Regions from separate parts of the Homo sapiens genome. Here all the other regions are linked to region 3. The links come from fine-mapping of genetic effects on gene expression. A gene starts in region 3. Each other region holds a variant in brackets. All regions are shown on one strand. Distances are from middle to middle.

What was found. PIP is the estimated chance that this variant, and not a neighbour inherited with it, causes the effect.
Region 1: its variant is fine-mapped to the expression of TNK2 in thyroid (GTEx, PIP above 0.99). The same link has a PIP of 0.9 or more in adrenal gland, blood mononuclear cells, cerebellum, lung, naive CD4 T cells and pituitary.
Region 2: its variant is fine-mapped to the expression of TNK2 in nasal epithelium (TOPMed, PIP 0.99).

The regions. Positions count from the first base shown.
Region 1 is chr3:195,867,507-195,872,506 of GRCh38, forward strand. It overlaps TNK2 (tyrosine kinase non receptor 2), which reads right to left. Exons shown (of 16, transcript NM_001382273.1): 10 at 4,770-4,964; 11 at 2,608-2,699; 12 at 1,991-2,035; 13 at 1-1,203. Among named protein-coding and RNA genes, the nearest start is that of LINC01983, 9.6 kb to the left of the region's middle. The variant T/C (reference allele first, on the strand shown) is at 2,530.
Region 2 is chr3:195,873,973-195,878,972 of GRCh38, forward strand. It overlaps TNK2 (tyrosine kinase non receptor 2), which reads right to left. Exons shown (of 16, transcript NM_001382273.1): 8 at 4,474-4,620; 9 at 4,281-4,375. Among named protein-coding and RNA genes, the nearest start is that of MIR6829, 5.9 kb to the right of the region's middle. RefSeq lists an enhancer at 3,556-4,110. The variant T/G (reference allele first, on the strand shown) is at 2,809.
Region 3 is chr3:195,906,182-195,911,469 of GRCh38, forward strand. TNK2 (tyrosine kinase non receptor 2) reads right to left here and starts at 2,370. Exons shown (of 16, transcript NM_001382273.1): 1 at 2,304-2,370. TNK2-AS1 (TNK2 antisense RNA 1) reads left to right here and starts at 1,895. Exons shown (of 2, transcript NR_145450.1): 1 at 1,895-2,597; 2 at 3,684-5,288. RefSeq lists enhancers at 584-633, 684-913, 3,904-3,953 and silencers at 2,584-2,833, 2,884-3,073, 3,124-3,773.

The DNA of each region.
Region 1 (5,000 bases), 39 kb before region 3:
CAGCCTGGGGCATCGGCCGCACGGTGGCCGTGGGGGCGGCGGGGGCTGGGGTGCTGGGTGGGGGCAGCAGCAGAGGCACAGGCAGGGGGGTAGGCTCCTCGGGGCTCTGGGCCTCACGCAGGAAGCGCTGGTAGCGCTCCAGGTAGGATGGTCGCTCGGGCAGCAAGTAATAGTGGGTGCTGCTGACCTTCTTGCCATCCCGGACGATGGGCAGGATGCAGGGACCAGCCCGCGGGCCAGGGGCCTGGATCACCTGGGGGGTGGCGTACTTGGGGTCTGAGGCAAAGCTCTGGGTGGTGGGCATGGTCTTCCCAGGTGAGCTTGAGAGCCGGGGTGGCAGCGGGGAGCTGCCAGGTGGTACCAGGGGGCTGGGTGTCCTCGAGCCTTGAGGGGACAGGGGCTCCCGCGGAGGCACCCGGGGAGGGGAAGCAGGTCCAGGCCACTGGCTGGTCTCCTCCTCGCCCGGGGGGGCTGGAGACAGCTGGACGTGTGGGCGCGTGGGCCGAGGGGGGATGGGTACCCGAGGAGGCACCTGGGGCTTGTCGTCACCCCCCGGGCTGGGAGAGGGGGCCGGGGAGCCGGCCGGAGCCTGCAGTTGCCTCATGCACTCCTGCTGTAGCGCCTGGAAGATCTCTGCGGTCTGTGCGGAGCTGGGCGGCTTGCCCCCACCCTGGGGCGGGAGGAACAGGTTGTCCTCCAGGGGAGGGGGCGGCCGCGCCTGCTCAGGCACAAAGGCGTAGTTGGTCTGGCCCTGGCTGGGCCCGGCAGGGACCCCCGCGCCCACGAGGGTGCTGTTGATGGAGCAGATCTCAAAGTCATCCTCATCCTGGGCCACGTCGTCATAGGCGGGCGGGGGGGGCAGCGGGCGTGCGTCCCAGTCCACCACAGGCGTGGGGTGCAGGGGCCGGGGCAGTGCCCGCGTGGGGCTCTGAGGCGGGGTCTCGTCCAGCAGGGAGCAGGCGTCCATGGCCAGCTGCGCCAGGGAGGGCGCGCAGGGCCGTAGGGCCGGGACCACGGGCTCCTCACCGAAGTCGATGAGCGTGACCTCAGCCCCGCTGCCTCGGCTGGCCTTGGTGCCCGGCACCCGCGCCGAGGGCTTCGCCAGCCACAGCCCTCGGGGCAGGCCTGGCTTCCGCAGGCCCAGCCTCTTGAAGTCGCTGGACAAGGGGTCTTGGTCCTCGCTCACAGGGTCATAGGTTGGTTCTGTGATGGAAAGGGAGAGCCCAACAGGAAGGCAGTCAGGCAGGGTCTGGGACACGAGGGGAGGTGGCACGTGGGAGAGAAAGCCAAGTGTCCCCCAGCAACCCTCCACTCCCAACTCCCCCCGAGGTCTGAGGTCAGCCACCGGCGGCCAGGTTCTCAGCGCACCTCCGACCACTCCATCAGGAGGGCGGAACCTGCTCTGCCCGGCAGCCCCATGTGGGCCGGTGAGCCCCGCCTCGCTCCGTCTAAGCTGCAGCAAGCAACACTGGCTCCTGCCTGACGCTGCCTCCACCAGCACAAGACCCCGGCGGCCCTGCTCCTGCGCCCTGGCGAGTTAGTGAGCCCTCATCCCCGCCCCTGTCACGGCACACCATTAGTGCAGGCACGGAGCCGCCTCCTGCCATCAGGGGCTATAAGGACTATCCTTGGAGAGGACAGTACTCCTGACCAACGGCCACAAAGCCCAGACAGCGCCTGCAGGTCTGGGAGGCAGCGAGGCCAAGGCAGAAGCCAGGGCCACACTCGTGCTCCAGAAGCTCAGACAGGTCTGGGAGGGAGTGAGGCCGAGGCGGAAGCCAGGGCCACACTCGTGAGCAGAAGCCCAGGCTCCGGGGGGCGGGCTCGAGGGGGGGCAGGCATGCTAGGCCAGGGCAGCCGCGGAAGCTCACAGCACACACCCACCCACCTCCCCTCCGGCCCAGCCGCCCAGGCTCTGTACCTTCCAGGAGAGGAGTGAGAGAGAGGGGGCGGGGGCGGGGGCCAAGGCATCGGAAGCAGCCCCACTTACTCTGAGTGAAGAAGGCAGGCTGAGGTGGGCGAGGTGGAGGCTCCCCTGCAAGAAAGGCCATGCGGACAGGGGGAGAGAGACGGAGCAGGACAGAGGACAAAGGAGGGAGACGGCCGGACGAGAGGGCAGAGTGTAGAGAGACGAAGGGAGAGAAGTGAATGGGGGCGAGTGAATGTACAAGCCCCCAGCAAACGGGAGGCCGCAGGCGGCAGGATGAGGAACACGGCGGTCCAGTATGATAGGCAGAGGACCGGGAGATGGAGGAGGCCCCAGGCAGAGCCGGAGCCGTGGGGTGGTTTTGGCTTGGGACAGGAGAGCAGGATTAGGGGGAAGTGAGGAAAGCCAGGATCTGAGCTCGGCCGTGGAAGGAGGGAGGAGGGACGCCGGGGCGGACGGGCCTGCTGCAGACCCAGCCCGAGGAGGCCCACCTCGGCGGATACAGCTGCCTGTCTTCCACCCCACGCCCAGCCGGAGCCAGGGACACAGCTGTCCCGCCTGCTGCCCTGACCCCACTGTCCCCAAAAACAGAACAGCAGCCT[T/C]AGGGTGGCCTGTGAAGACAGTGCCCCTTCCTGAGTAGCCGATGAGTTAGGGACACCAGGGAGCAGAGGGGCTCTTACTTTTCACCCCTCCTAGATGCTGGGGGGGCCGGGAGGTGCTCAGTTCCACGCTCAGGAGGTCGGGGGGGTCCATGGGGTTTCCCAGATACAGTCTGTGGGGGAGAGAGCTGGGTCAAGAGAGCAGGGGAAGCGTGTGGAGGGGTGGCAGAATCTCATCAGAGCCCCTTCGTCCTGGAGGAAACCGGGTGTAGTCTTGGGTCTGAAGCACAGGCCTCCCGCCTCCCAGTCCACAGAACCTGACCGCACGTCTCAGCTGGGGGGTGTCCTGGAGAGAAGGCAGAGAAAGGACACCTGACCCCAGGATGGAAAGCCTAGGACCTCAGGGACTCCAACTACACCCTACAAGGGCAGAGGTGGTCCTCCACAACCCCCCAGGCCCCCAGCCCACACCAGGCAGCGGCCAGAGGGCAGACACTCCTGTCCCGCAGGCCACGATGGAGGGCCTAAGAACGGGGCATCCCAGCTATGGTGCCCAGCCAGGGTGGGCAGGAGGCACCCTTCTGCCACATGGCCAGGAGGTGCGGGAGAGGCTGGGCCACCTGTCCTGCTCCGGATCCACCCTCCGTCCCTGCACCAACTGTCAGTATCTGAGACTTAGTCACTGGGGCTGATTAAAGCCTGGAGGAATGGGGCTGGGCTGGCCACAGCATGCCAGGAGTGGGGCAGAGGGCACCAGCCTCTCCTGGAGGTGTCTGCAGTCTTTCACCCCAACTCTCAGGCCCTTGCTGGGTTCTTTTTAGGCAAAACACATGGGCTGAGCCCTGTGAGCTTGGGGTTCCAGTGTGTGTGGGCCCGCTGTGTGGGTTCTGGTGTGTGGGGGCCCGCTGTGTGGGTTCTGGTGTGGGGGGACTCGCTGTGTGGGGTTCTGGTGTGTGGGGGCCCGCTGTGTGGGTTCTGGTGTGTGGGGGCCCGCTGTGTGGGGTTCTGGTGTGTGGGGCCCGGTGGGTGAAGGCCCCTGCTTTCCACGCCTCTCAGGGCAGACCAGAGTATCAGAAGTCAGCAGGAGAAGGGCTGCAGAGGCCAGGGGCCTGGAATCCCCCTGCGGCCAGCAGAGAGGCTTGGAGGCCTGGCGCAAGAAGCTTCGGGGGGTGGGGGGTGGCATCCCGGAAGTGACTGATTCTGCGTGTCCTTCCCAGATGCCCCTCGGTGGCCTTATCCTCTTACATAGGAGACAGGGCCTCTCCCAGGTATGGAGTGAGCTCCGTAGAGTACTGTGTGGTGGGGAGGCGGAGCTGCCACCTAACGTTCCCTCTGCAGTCCCCAAGGTCCCCAGTCCCACTCTGGTTCTGGAAAGCAGGCTCACTCCCATGTGGACCTGCATACATCCCCAGGGCCTGAGCCAGCAGGTTCACGTCTCCAGGACTCTGGCACCACCAGCAGGAGAAGGAAAACCACTGCTCGTGTGCAGGGGTCACAGGGTCACAGGGTCACAGGGGGCCACAGGGGGGTCATGGGAGAAGCTCTCCTCCTCAGCAGCTCCCACCGGGTTCCTCCCAAGTTCATTTTCCTAAGGCCCGAGTACCAAGAGGGGTTACAGCTGTGGCTCCGGGGACCTTTCCACCAAACAGGAGTCCATCCTCAGAAGCTCCTGACCCTACTTTCATCTACAGTGAGTGGGAAAGCTTCTCTCAGGACCCCTGCATCTGAGCAGCAAGTGCTAATTCAGAGTGCATTTACAGCCTTCCCCTTATTGGGGGGGTGAACCTGTTTCACAGATGAAGTGTCTCAGAGTTAGGAGATCGGCCCCCCAAAGCTTGAAAATGGCAGGGACAGCATTCCCCTGGAGAACGCTCCCCGGAGAACCCTCCCCTGGAGAACCCTCCCCTGGAGAACATTCCCCTGGAGAACCCTCCCCTGGAGAACCCTCCCCTGGAGAACCCTCCCCTGGAGAACATTCCCCTGGAGAACCCTCCCCTGGAGAACCCTCCCCTGGAGAACACTCCCCTGGAGAACATTCCCCTGGAGAACCCCCACCAGGCTGGGCTTCCTAGGGTTCCACAGCTTCCCGAGAGTAAGGCCAGGGTGAGGAGGGGAGAGTGGCGGGTCGGGGGCTGAAGCCCGGGCGAAAGGGTGAAGAGCAGATTCCGCCCACGCGTGCCGTGCTGAGGGCCCTGGAGTCCCGAGCGGGGCCAGGTCAGCATCCATCCCCGCCCAGTACTCACTCGTCAATCCTGTCCGGGAAGCCCCAGCAGTGGCGGGGGTCACTGTCGCCATGCCCTGTGTGGATGAAGCTGTTCTGCAGGGGCTGGCTGATGTCCTGGGCCGACAGGCCGGCCACGGAGGTCACCACGTTGCGAGGGAAGGGCCCCACACACAGCGTCCGTGTGTTCTGGCCACGCCACCAGTAGTTCTCGGCCCTGCGCGACAGAGATGGCACGGTGAACGCCAGGCGT
Region 2 (5,000 bases), 32 kb before region 3:
CCCGAGACGAGACGAGTCCCATCTGAAAAATAGCAGGGCCACTCGAAGGAGCAGAGCCCCGGCTCCCCAGCACGCACACAGCCTCCCACGGCGGCCCGTAGAGGAGGAACCCCGGCACCGGCTGGGCTGCGGCTCTCCCGCTACACCCACGGGCTCCCCGGTGGCTGCCGCGGGCCAGACGCCGGACTCTGCTCTCCACACCTCTTCAGAGGCGCTCAGTAACTGGGTGAGAATGCCGCTGAGGCCGAGACCTTGCTCAGAGCAGCGTGACTCGTGCCCAAGGCAGGTCACTCCGTCTGGCCTCTCCCTTCCGCCAACACTGCCCAGCTCCAGGCACAGAAGCCTCCTTTGGGACCCACTTCTGAGAGGGAAAGGAGACATCAAGCCCACCTCCCTTAGTGCAGGTATGGCCGAGGCAAGAGCCCCCATGGCTGCTGGGAGTCCTGACACCACTCGAGAAAACATGCTTGCTCCTGGGGGAAGGAGAGTAAGAGTGCGGAGGACGTGTGCAAGAAGCTCCCCTCGGGATGGCGCCCACGCACACTCCGAGGCACAAGAAACTCCCCCTCGGGATGGCGCCCACGCACGCTCCGAGGCACAAGAAGCTCCCCCTCGGGATGGCGCCCACGCACACTCCGAGGCACAAGAAGCTCCCCTCGGGATGGCGCCCACGCACACTCCGAGGCACAAGAAGCTCCCCTCGGGATGGCGCCCACGCACGCTCCGAGGCACAAGAAACTCTCCCTCGGGATGGCGCCCACGCACGCTCCGAGGCACAGGAAGCTCCCCTCGGGATGGCGCCCACGCACGCTCCGAGGCACAGGAAGCTCCCCTCGGGATGGCGCCCACGCACACTCCGAGGCACAAGAAGCTCCCCTCGGGATGGCGCCCACGCACGCTCCGAGGCACAAGAAACTCCCCCTCGGGATGGCGCCCACGCACGCTCCGAGGCACAAGAAGCTCCCCTCGGGATGGCGCCCACGCACACTCCGAGGCACAAGAAGCTCCCCTCGGGATGGCGCCCACGCACGCTCCGAGGCACAAGAAACTCCCCCTCGGGATGGCGCCCACGCACGCTCGGAGGCACAGGAAGCTCCCCCTCGGGATGGCGCCCACGCACACTCCGAGGCACAAGAAGCTCCCCTCGGGATGGCGCCCACGCACACTCCGAGGCACAAGAAGCTCCCCTCGGGATGGCGCCCACGCACGCTCCGAGGCACAAGAAACTCCCCCTCGGGATGGCGCCCACGCACGCTCCGAGGCACAGGAAGCTCCCCTCGGGATGGCGCCCACGCACGCTCCGAGGCACACGAAGCTCCCCTCGGGATGGCGCCCACGCACGCTCCGAGGCACAAGAAACTCCCCCTCGGGATGGCGCCCACGCACGCTCCGAGGCACAAGAAACTCCCCCTCGGGATGGCGCCCACGCACGCTCCGAGGCACAAGAAGCTCCCCCTCGGGATGGCGCCCACGCACGCTCGGAGGCACAGGAAGCTCCCCCTCGGGATGGCGCCCACGCACACTCCAAGGCAGCTTCATCCCAAGGCTCCAGTGGGACTTCCAAGAGGACCGTGTCACTTCTCGCAGCCCACACGCACCCGTGTGAGGCTCAGTGTGGCCGAGGCACCAGCAGTCCAGAGGGGACTGAGGCCAGCCCTTCCTTCCAGGCCCGCCCTGTCCGCGCCCTCTCTCTCCCGCCATGAACAGGCCGGAGTCCCCGTGGCCATGGGAGGGCCAGGGCTGCTACCCGGCCGTGACTGAAGCAGGGGCGGATGAGGACTTCCTGGGGGAGCAGGAAAAGGGCCCAACACCTCCGCATGAACCTTCTACCTCCTGCTGCCCCCGGGCCTCTGGTCAACATCTCTGGGGTAGACAAGATGGAAAACAGAGGCCGGTGCTGAGAACTGCCTAAGGCTGCCCCAGCTCTGGAAATCTCAGCACCACGTTCCCGTCCGGGCCGAAGGTAGTCCAGAAATGGCTCAACTAATGCCGGACATTCTGTTCAAAACGCCCGCCCGCTCTTCTCCCTAGGGGTCCCAGGCGCCCAGGCCTGGAGGGATAACCCGGATGCCTGGCTCCCACCCACCACAGGAAGCCGAGGCTCCAGGGCCAGACCAGGCCAAGGACCCGCAATGGATTCCAACACCCGCTCTGTATGCGGAACAAAAGTGCTGCCAGCCACCCCTTCCTCCAAACGAGCCCCTGGGAAAGACCAGTCATCATTTGTGTCTCCAAATCTAGACACAGCACGAAACATCTAGGTGTCTCCCCTCTGCCCACAGCCTGGTACCCTGAGAAGGACTGAGCCTAGACTCAGTCAGAGCTGCGGCAGGTGGCCTCCCAGACTCCGCACCAGGAAACAAATACTGGACACAGCTTCGCAAGTGGGAAGCCACGGCGAAGAGAAGGCCAGGCTAGGAGGGAACTCCAAACACAGACCCACAGATGCACACCCAGGCCCAAAGACTCACACAGAGCCATCCGCCTGGAGACATGGAGACGGAGGCAGCCAAACAAACATGGAGATATTCAGGGACTGAAGAAACAAGGGGGCAGAGTCAAGCTCTGCCACCACCGACACCCAGGCCCGCTCCCAAGCCTCACCGGCTGTTGTGGCCTCCTGCCCCTCACCTCCCACCTCCTGAGCAGCTCCAGGCACGGAGGGCAGGTGCTGTGGTTCCAAGCCAGGGCTGGTGGCCCAGGGGGAAGGAGCCCCCAGAGCCCCACCAGCAGCAGCCACAGGGAACCAGCGGCTGGGGCCAACGGGGGCCTTCGACGGAAGGGCGGGGCGGGGCACACCCACAACCC[T/G]CCCAGGAGCAGCCGCTCCCGGCCCCTCCCACTGCCCGCCTTGCCCGGGCGGTGACCTAAAACACCAGCTCCAGAGACACACGCCCCAAACACAGGCCACTCTGAGTCACCCCTGGGGACACTGGCAGGCACACAGGCTCCTGCTGAGAGCAAGGGAAGCAGGTGGTAAAGATCTGGGGCTCCGGCAGCAGCACAAGAGGGGCCAGGCCCACGGCTTTCCAGCTCGTGGAGGTGGACACGGTCATGAGGCTGGACTTCGGGCTGGAGGCCCTGCCAGGTACTTCCAGGGGACCCCCCCACCCTTAATCTTCCTATTTCCAGAATGCTCCCCGGAGCGCCACGCTTGCAATCCCATCCCTGGCCCCTCAGCTCCAAACCTGCAGACTGTTTGCCTCCTGTCCCCAGGCCTCTCTTTCTAGAACCTTCTGCATTCTTCCCCAGCATAACACCCCTAACCACAGGCCCTGCAGTCTCAGTATGTCATTCCTATTCCCAGACCCTGGGCCCAAGGGTGAGGGAGCCGGGCCTGGGAAGGCTCGGGGTGTCGGGGCCACAGCGGTGCAGGTCACACTCCACACAGCCCCCCAGGTCTCCTCCACCCACCCCCAAGAGGCACAGGATTGCACCGAAGGCCGCAGACTCCAAAAGCTGCAGTGCAGGTGGAAGAGGCTCCCTGGGAAGCAGCCCTAGCCCCATCCTTGCCTGGCCTGAGTCAGGAGCTGCGAGCACAGGGGATTTCCTCCACTTCACTCTTCTTCCTGGTCCTCAATACTGCCCCTGCCTCAAAGGTACCTGAAACCTGCCCTGCCCCAGCCAGTTGCTCAGACACCCTGGGGATCAGCCAGCACAAGGCAGGGCCAGCAGTGGTGGGGCCTCAGGGCAGGCGCTAGAACTGCGGGGGCTCAGGTGGAAGACAGGGACTCCCGAGAGGCTGTGGGAGGAGGGTTAGGTATAGAGAGGGTCCTCCCAAGGGGAGATGGGAAGAGAGGACCAGAGGCTGGAGGCAGGCCTGGGAGGGGGTGGTGGGCTCAGCAGGAAGGATGGAAAGCTGCAAGAGGGCAGGCTGGGCTGCTTCAGCTACTGAAACGCACCCAGGTGGATGGCTGAGTCCCTGTGCCAGGAAGAAGCAGGGAGAGAAGCGGGGAGGAGCAGAGGAGGAAGCACGGGAGTCCAGAACTCTGCTGCCACCGAGGCCAGGCCACTCCCTACCCCTCCATAAAGGCAGCCTGGCCCAACCACACAGCCAGGGCTGCAGCCCAGTGGGAAAGGGTGGTGGAGGGAAGCTGGGCAGGGAAAGGCACTAGGAAGACGGAGGCAGGCCTGTCCTCCCCTCACACTGCAGGGTTCAGGCCCAACCGCCAGCCTGTATGTGGCCAAGGGAATCTTGGAGGCCAAACAGATCTGTCCACAGGTCCCTCCGACCTGTGCCCTTCAAGCGATCCCAGGGCGGGGCCCAGCCCTGCACTCCCTACCTTCCCTCGATGACGGTGATGACATCATTCATCTGGATGTGCAGCTTGTCCGGTTCCTCAAAGTCCTGAAGGGCCCGCATGTCTGTGGGCTGGGCCTGGAGGAAGAGGAAGGTCGTGGCCAACTCTGGGACTGACGCCTGGGTAGCCCCTCAGCTTGAACACCCCAGCTCTCCTGGGCTGACCTGTCCCTCACCTCCAGCAGGAAGTCCCGCAGGGCCACAAACGTGGGTCTGTCCTCTGGCTTGTGAGCCCAGCACTGGACCATGACGTTGTAGATGTCCTGGGGACAGTCCTCGGGCCGGGGCAGCCGCTCCCCCTCCTTGTCGATCTTATGCAGGATCTGAAGGTGAGGAGGTGCAGAGTTTGACGACAAACAGAGCGCCCAGCCCTTCACTTCCCGCCTTCCCTCCAGCCCATCCACAGCTGCAGCGGCTGCTGCCATGCCTGGCCTCCAAAGAAGGGATCTGCCTGCCTGGGAGGGGCCCTCTCCAGAGCCCCAGTCCCTTCTTCCCAGGTCTGGAGCCTCGGAACAAGTGGATGTGGCAAGGGCTAGAGAAGGAGGGCAGGCCCCAGCTTTTCCCTCCCCGTCTCTTTGCTGGGCTCTCCCTGAGGCCATACAGATACGGGGCGTGAGAGGAGACACGGGGCGTGGTGGGAGGCACGGGAAGTGGGGGGAGGCACGGGGCGTGGGAGGAGGGAGTCCATTGGTGAGAGGCAGTT
Region 3 (5,288 bases):
ATCAAAGACATGGACAAACCAGAACTCTCATACACAGTGGATGAGTATATAAAATGTACAACCACTTTGGAAAACAGTCTGGCAGTTTCTTAAAGGTTAAATGTGTACCTACCACATGACCCAGCCATTCCGGTCCTAGGGATTTACCTAAGATAAATAAAAGTGTACATCCACACAAAGACTAACAAACACGTTCACAGCAGCTTTCTCTGAAAACCCATCAACAGGTCAATGGATAAACAGACTTTGGCACACGTGTACAATGACTGTTGATACGCGCAACCACCTGGACAAACTCCAAAATACTTCTGTTGAATGAAAGACGCGATTCCGTTTACAGTAAATGCTGCAAACTCAGACACAGTGACAGAAAGTAGACCAGCCTGTTACCTGGGGTAGGGGATGGCAGAGGAGCGGGGGATGGAGGGGTTCCACAAGAAAACTTCTGGGGACAGGGGAATAAGGGGGATGTTCACTATCTTGAAGGTGGGGGTGGTTTCACGGGTATATACACAGGCCACAACTTATTAAATTGTGTGTTTTAAATATGCTCAGTTTACCATATGTCATTATATCTCAATAAAACTGTTATTTAAAACAAACAAAAAGAAACACTGCATCTTCTAGACGAAGCACAAGGTGGGGGCTAATCCCGGGCTCAGGGGCCAGAGGGAACAGTCTGACCCTTCCTCCCTAACATCTGCCGGGGCTCCGGGGAGGTGGGCACCAGGCTCCAAAGGGCCTGAGGTTTCTTTACTCACGACACTGCAGGGGAAGTCCTGGCCCACCGCAGACACCAAGAAACTGAAACCTAAAGACATTATGTTGCCCAAGGAAGTTACACAGCTTGTAAGCGATATAACCAGATCAAAAGCAATCTGTGTGATGCCAAGGCCTTTCTCCCATTCATCTACCACAAGTTCAAAAACGCCGACCTGAAATAAGTAGGTGAAGATTGTGTGTATGTGTTTAAAACAGACCGTTCTCTCCACTGAAGCCAGACAGTGAGAGCCACTCTGGCCATTCCAGAAGCGTCAGGCACCGTGGGCACAGCAGCTGAACTTCCGGTGCATGAGTGTTTGGGTGGCAGCGCGACAGGCATGGGATGAAGCTGACAGGCGGGTTTGAGTTTGTCTGAGGAGCGGGCTAACCGGCTCCTCCAGCAGCTGCTACCTCCAGCACCACTCCCTCTGCCCCCAGAGGAGAGCACCCAGTCTGGTTCGGGACAGGGGTCTGGGTCCATCTGACTCACAGCCACACCTCGGGCTGGGGCAGAGGAGGGTCCTCTAGCTAAGGCCCTGGGCAAGCAGCAACCCTGCACCCATCCCCACCCAGGGGCAGGGGAAGCAAGCACCTGACAGTGCCAGGTAAGAGGCGAACAGCTCTAGGAGAGTAAGGCCCACAAGCAGCCCGCCAAGCCCCCTGGGGGCACGAGGCGGAATGAGTAGGTCTGGCACTCAGGCCACGAGGGAGTCAACAAGCCAAATACAGCCCCCACCCTTGGCCCCTACAAGCCCTACCTCTAGACTGGGCTGGGAGCTCCTGTCCTGACAGGTGCAGAGCCCATGATACCACAGCGGCCCATCTGCAAACCTCCCCAGGGTGGGGCCACAGAGGCAGCCCAGAGCCCTGGGGTGCAAGTGCACCCTCCTCTCCCGCCCCTCTAACGCTGGGTCGTCCCACCCAGAGACGAGAGGGCTCACCAGTTGCTCTCCCTCCTTCCGCCCACTAATCATCCTTGGCTCTGGGCCCTCAGGGTAAATCAGCTGTGACAGGACGGCGTGGCAGAAGCGGGCCAGGCTCGTGCCGTACCCAAGCCACTAGCTGTCACACTCATCTCAGCTCACGTGACCAACAGGGTTACAAGATAAGGTTCTGTTAATCCCACGCTGCCCTCTTCCCTTCTGTGGGACGTGTTTTGAGGACTTGTGTGTTGACTGCACCATGCAGAGCATATAGCATGGAGGCACCCCTACTGCCATCGGGGGGCAGGTGGAGGGGGGACCGTCCTGCAGCTCCTCCCTGGGGCTACCCCTCTCTTCCCTCTGCACAGACCTGGCAGCCACCCAGACGTCCCGCCTGCTGCCTAGACTCTAAGAAGATGCCCTATCACTCCAATTACCATACACAGTACTGGCGGGGGAGAGGTCCTGCCTTGCCGCTGAAAACTGCACTGCTTCCTCCCTCCAGGGATGAAAGGCCAAAAGAACGAGGGCAGTGTGGAGTCTACGCTCTCGCCAGGGACCTGCAGCCTCTCACTTCCAAGCACACCAACTCCAGCTAACAGGACTGGGCTTCCTTACCTGCCGCCTTCCGCTGCCTCCCCGCAGACACAGCTTCAGCGACGCCCAGGCTGAGACGGCAGAAGAGGTTCCCGCCGGCCGCGGCCTGCCCTCAGGCAGTGGCTCCCAGAGCTCAGCGGTTCCCCGCACTCTTCTGCGCCCGACTCCCCATGCCCCTACATCCTGCGTCCCCTTCAGCCCCGGAGGTACCGTGGGGCCCGGGCCTGCCAGTCACCACCTCCTCCTCCGCCGGCGCCTCCGGGTCCTGAGCCCCTCGCCGGGTCCCTCTCCCTCCTGGGGCTCCTTCCCGTTCAGGTAGGTTTCCTGGACAGCCCGCACCACCTGTCCCTCCTGCACCCCGGGCAGCCAATTCGCCTCTTGCACCCCCAGGCGCCCCTCCCCCGCAGGCCCCCGGGGCCCCACCGGCCGGGCCCTCCCCACCAGCTCGGGGCGGCTTCGGGGCGCCGGGGCCGCTCCCAGGACCACCGCCTCCCGCCCGACGCTCTCCCACTGCCGCTCCCCCAGTTCGCCGGAACTTTCCGGCCCCTCCCTGCGCTCGCGGGGGCCTTCCCCGGACTCGGACGCCGGTTCGGGCTGCTGCAGCAGCCTCCGCGGGCTCCCCTCCCCGCGCTCCTGCACCCCGGCCCGGGCCTCGCCGCGCTCCTGCACTGCGGGGCTGCCTCCGCCCTTCTCCTGGTGCTGCCCGCGGGGCCCCAGCCCCTCCTCCTGCGCCACAGGCCAGCCCGCCGAGCCCGTCCACCACGGCGGGCGCCCCCAGCCCGCGCCGTCCGGCGGCCCCCACACCACCCCCCGGCTGGGCTCGTGGCCGCGGCCGCCGCGCTCCTGCAGCCCCGGGCCCACCCCGCCCTCCTCCTGCACCGCCGGGCCCACCCCGCCCCGCTCCTCCACGCCGAGCTTCAGCCCGCGGAGCTGCTGCGGGCCCCAGCTGAGAACCCCTACGCGCTGCGGCTGCTGCTCCGGCAGCGCAGGGCTCAGCCCGCCGCGCTCCTCCTGCGCGACCCGCCGGGGGCCCCCGACCGGCTCGGCCCAGCGCACTCGCTTGCCCCCCAGAGGCCGCGCGCTCCCACCCCTCCAGATGGTGCTGCCCTCGGCGCCCGCTCACACCGCCCGCCCGCCCCGGCCCTCCCCTCCCGCCCCGGGCCGCCCCCGAGTCCCGCGCCCGCCTCCCCGCCCTCGCCTCCGGGCGTCAACGTCGGCCCGCCGGGCGCCCGCCCCGCGCCGGCCCCCGCAGGTGAGCGCCCGCCCGCCGTCCCTCCTGCCGAGCGCCCCGAGCCCGCCTGCGCCTGCGCCTGCGCCGCCCCGGGGTGGGGGGTGGGGGGGAGTCGGCCCGCCCTCTTAAAGGGCCCGGCCTCATCGCTCCTCCCCCGGCTCCTCCCCCAGCCTCCGGGGCCCTACCCCGCTCTCCCCGACTCCCCCGGGCCCGGCCTGCGCCTTCCTGCGGTGCCGAGGAGCGGTGGCGCCCTGGGTGAAGAAGTCCCGCCGAGTCGAGGGGCGCAATGGAGGAGCGCCGGAACAGGTCTCTCATTCCGAGTAGCTACCGTTGCACTGTGCGAGTGTAAAAGTCACTTCCACCCGGTCTCAGTTGTTCCAACCTCAGTTGAAGTGAGGAGGTTGGACTGGAAGGTTTCTGGGGTCACTCCAGTGAGGCTGGGGTTCTAGTCCCAATCTCACCGTGGCACCCCAAAGGCCCAGAAACCCGGACCATCACCTCTCTTTCCCCGGGGCCAACGGAGCACTCCTGAAGGAGGGAGGGTTTGTCTCAGGCCTGACGATTCCTGATGAGGACTTGGGCAGAAACAGCCCCAGGCAAGCGGACCTTCATTCCTGCACTTGAGCCGTCTCCTCCCTGCCCCCACCCCAGAAGGAGAAAACCCAGCGCTCGGATTCCCAGCGGCGGGGCAGCCTGCAGGCCCTGTTCCCAGCCCACAGACCCATGTCCCAGCCCAAACGGAGGCAGCCCTGGGCAGCGGGCGCGTGGAGCCCAAGGGCTCAGGGCCACTCAGCCCTTGTTACTGTCCCTCATCTAGAAAATGGATGTAATAACAAAACAGTTCACGGTAGGTGGCAAGATCAGACACATCGGAAACTGTGTAGGGCTGGCTCTTTCTGCGCTCACACTGTCCAGCAATGGGCCCCAGGGACTTGGCCAGAGCGCAGTAGGGCAATGAGAAAGGGGTGGCTTCTGGAAACCTACACGAGGCCCAGTCTGGGTGGATTTGGGTGGCGGTCCCTTGCCTGCGAGGTGGGCAGGGCAACTTTCTACTAAATTATCTAACACTGCCAGTAATGGCAGCCCTTCCCCAGGGAGCCAGGAGGCTGGGCCAGGACCACCCCCCTGTCGCCTGGCTTCAGGAAAGAAAGTGGGGAAGACAACAGATTTGGGAGAAGGAAACTGAGGAGGTTTTCTCCCAGTCTCCCTCACGCTGCCTCAGTCATGGCCATTGCTAAGACTCACAGAGCCCAACTGTGCAAGGCCCTGCACTTCGCATTCTTCTCATCCAACCCCATGACAACCCAAGGAGACACATAATATCCCCATTTTACACGTGGCAGAACTGAGGTTCTACATGGCCAAGTGACTTGTTCAGTGCCATACAGCTGGTAGTAGTGAAGCCAGGATTCAAATCCAGCTTTCCGACTCTAAAGTCTAAGGCACAGACCGAGTGTGGTGACTCATGCCTGTAATCACAGCACTTTGGAGGCTGAGGAGGGCAAATCATTTGAGCTCCCAAGTTCAGGACCAGCCTGGGCAACACGGCAAAACCCTGTCTCTACAAAAAAAATAGAAAAATTAGCAGAGCATGGTGGCACGCACCTGTAATCCCAGCTACTCGGGAGGCCGAGGGGGGAGGATCGCTTGAGCCTGGGAGGTGGAGGTTGCACTGAGTAGAGACCACACCACTGCACTCCTGCCTGGGCAATAGAGCCAGACCTTGCCTCAAAAAAAAAAAAAATCTGAGGCACAAAAAAGCAACGCCAAATCCA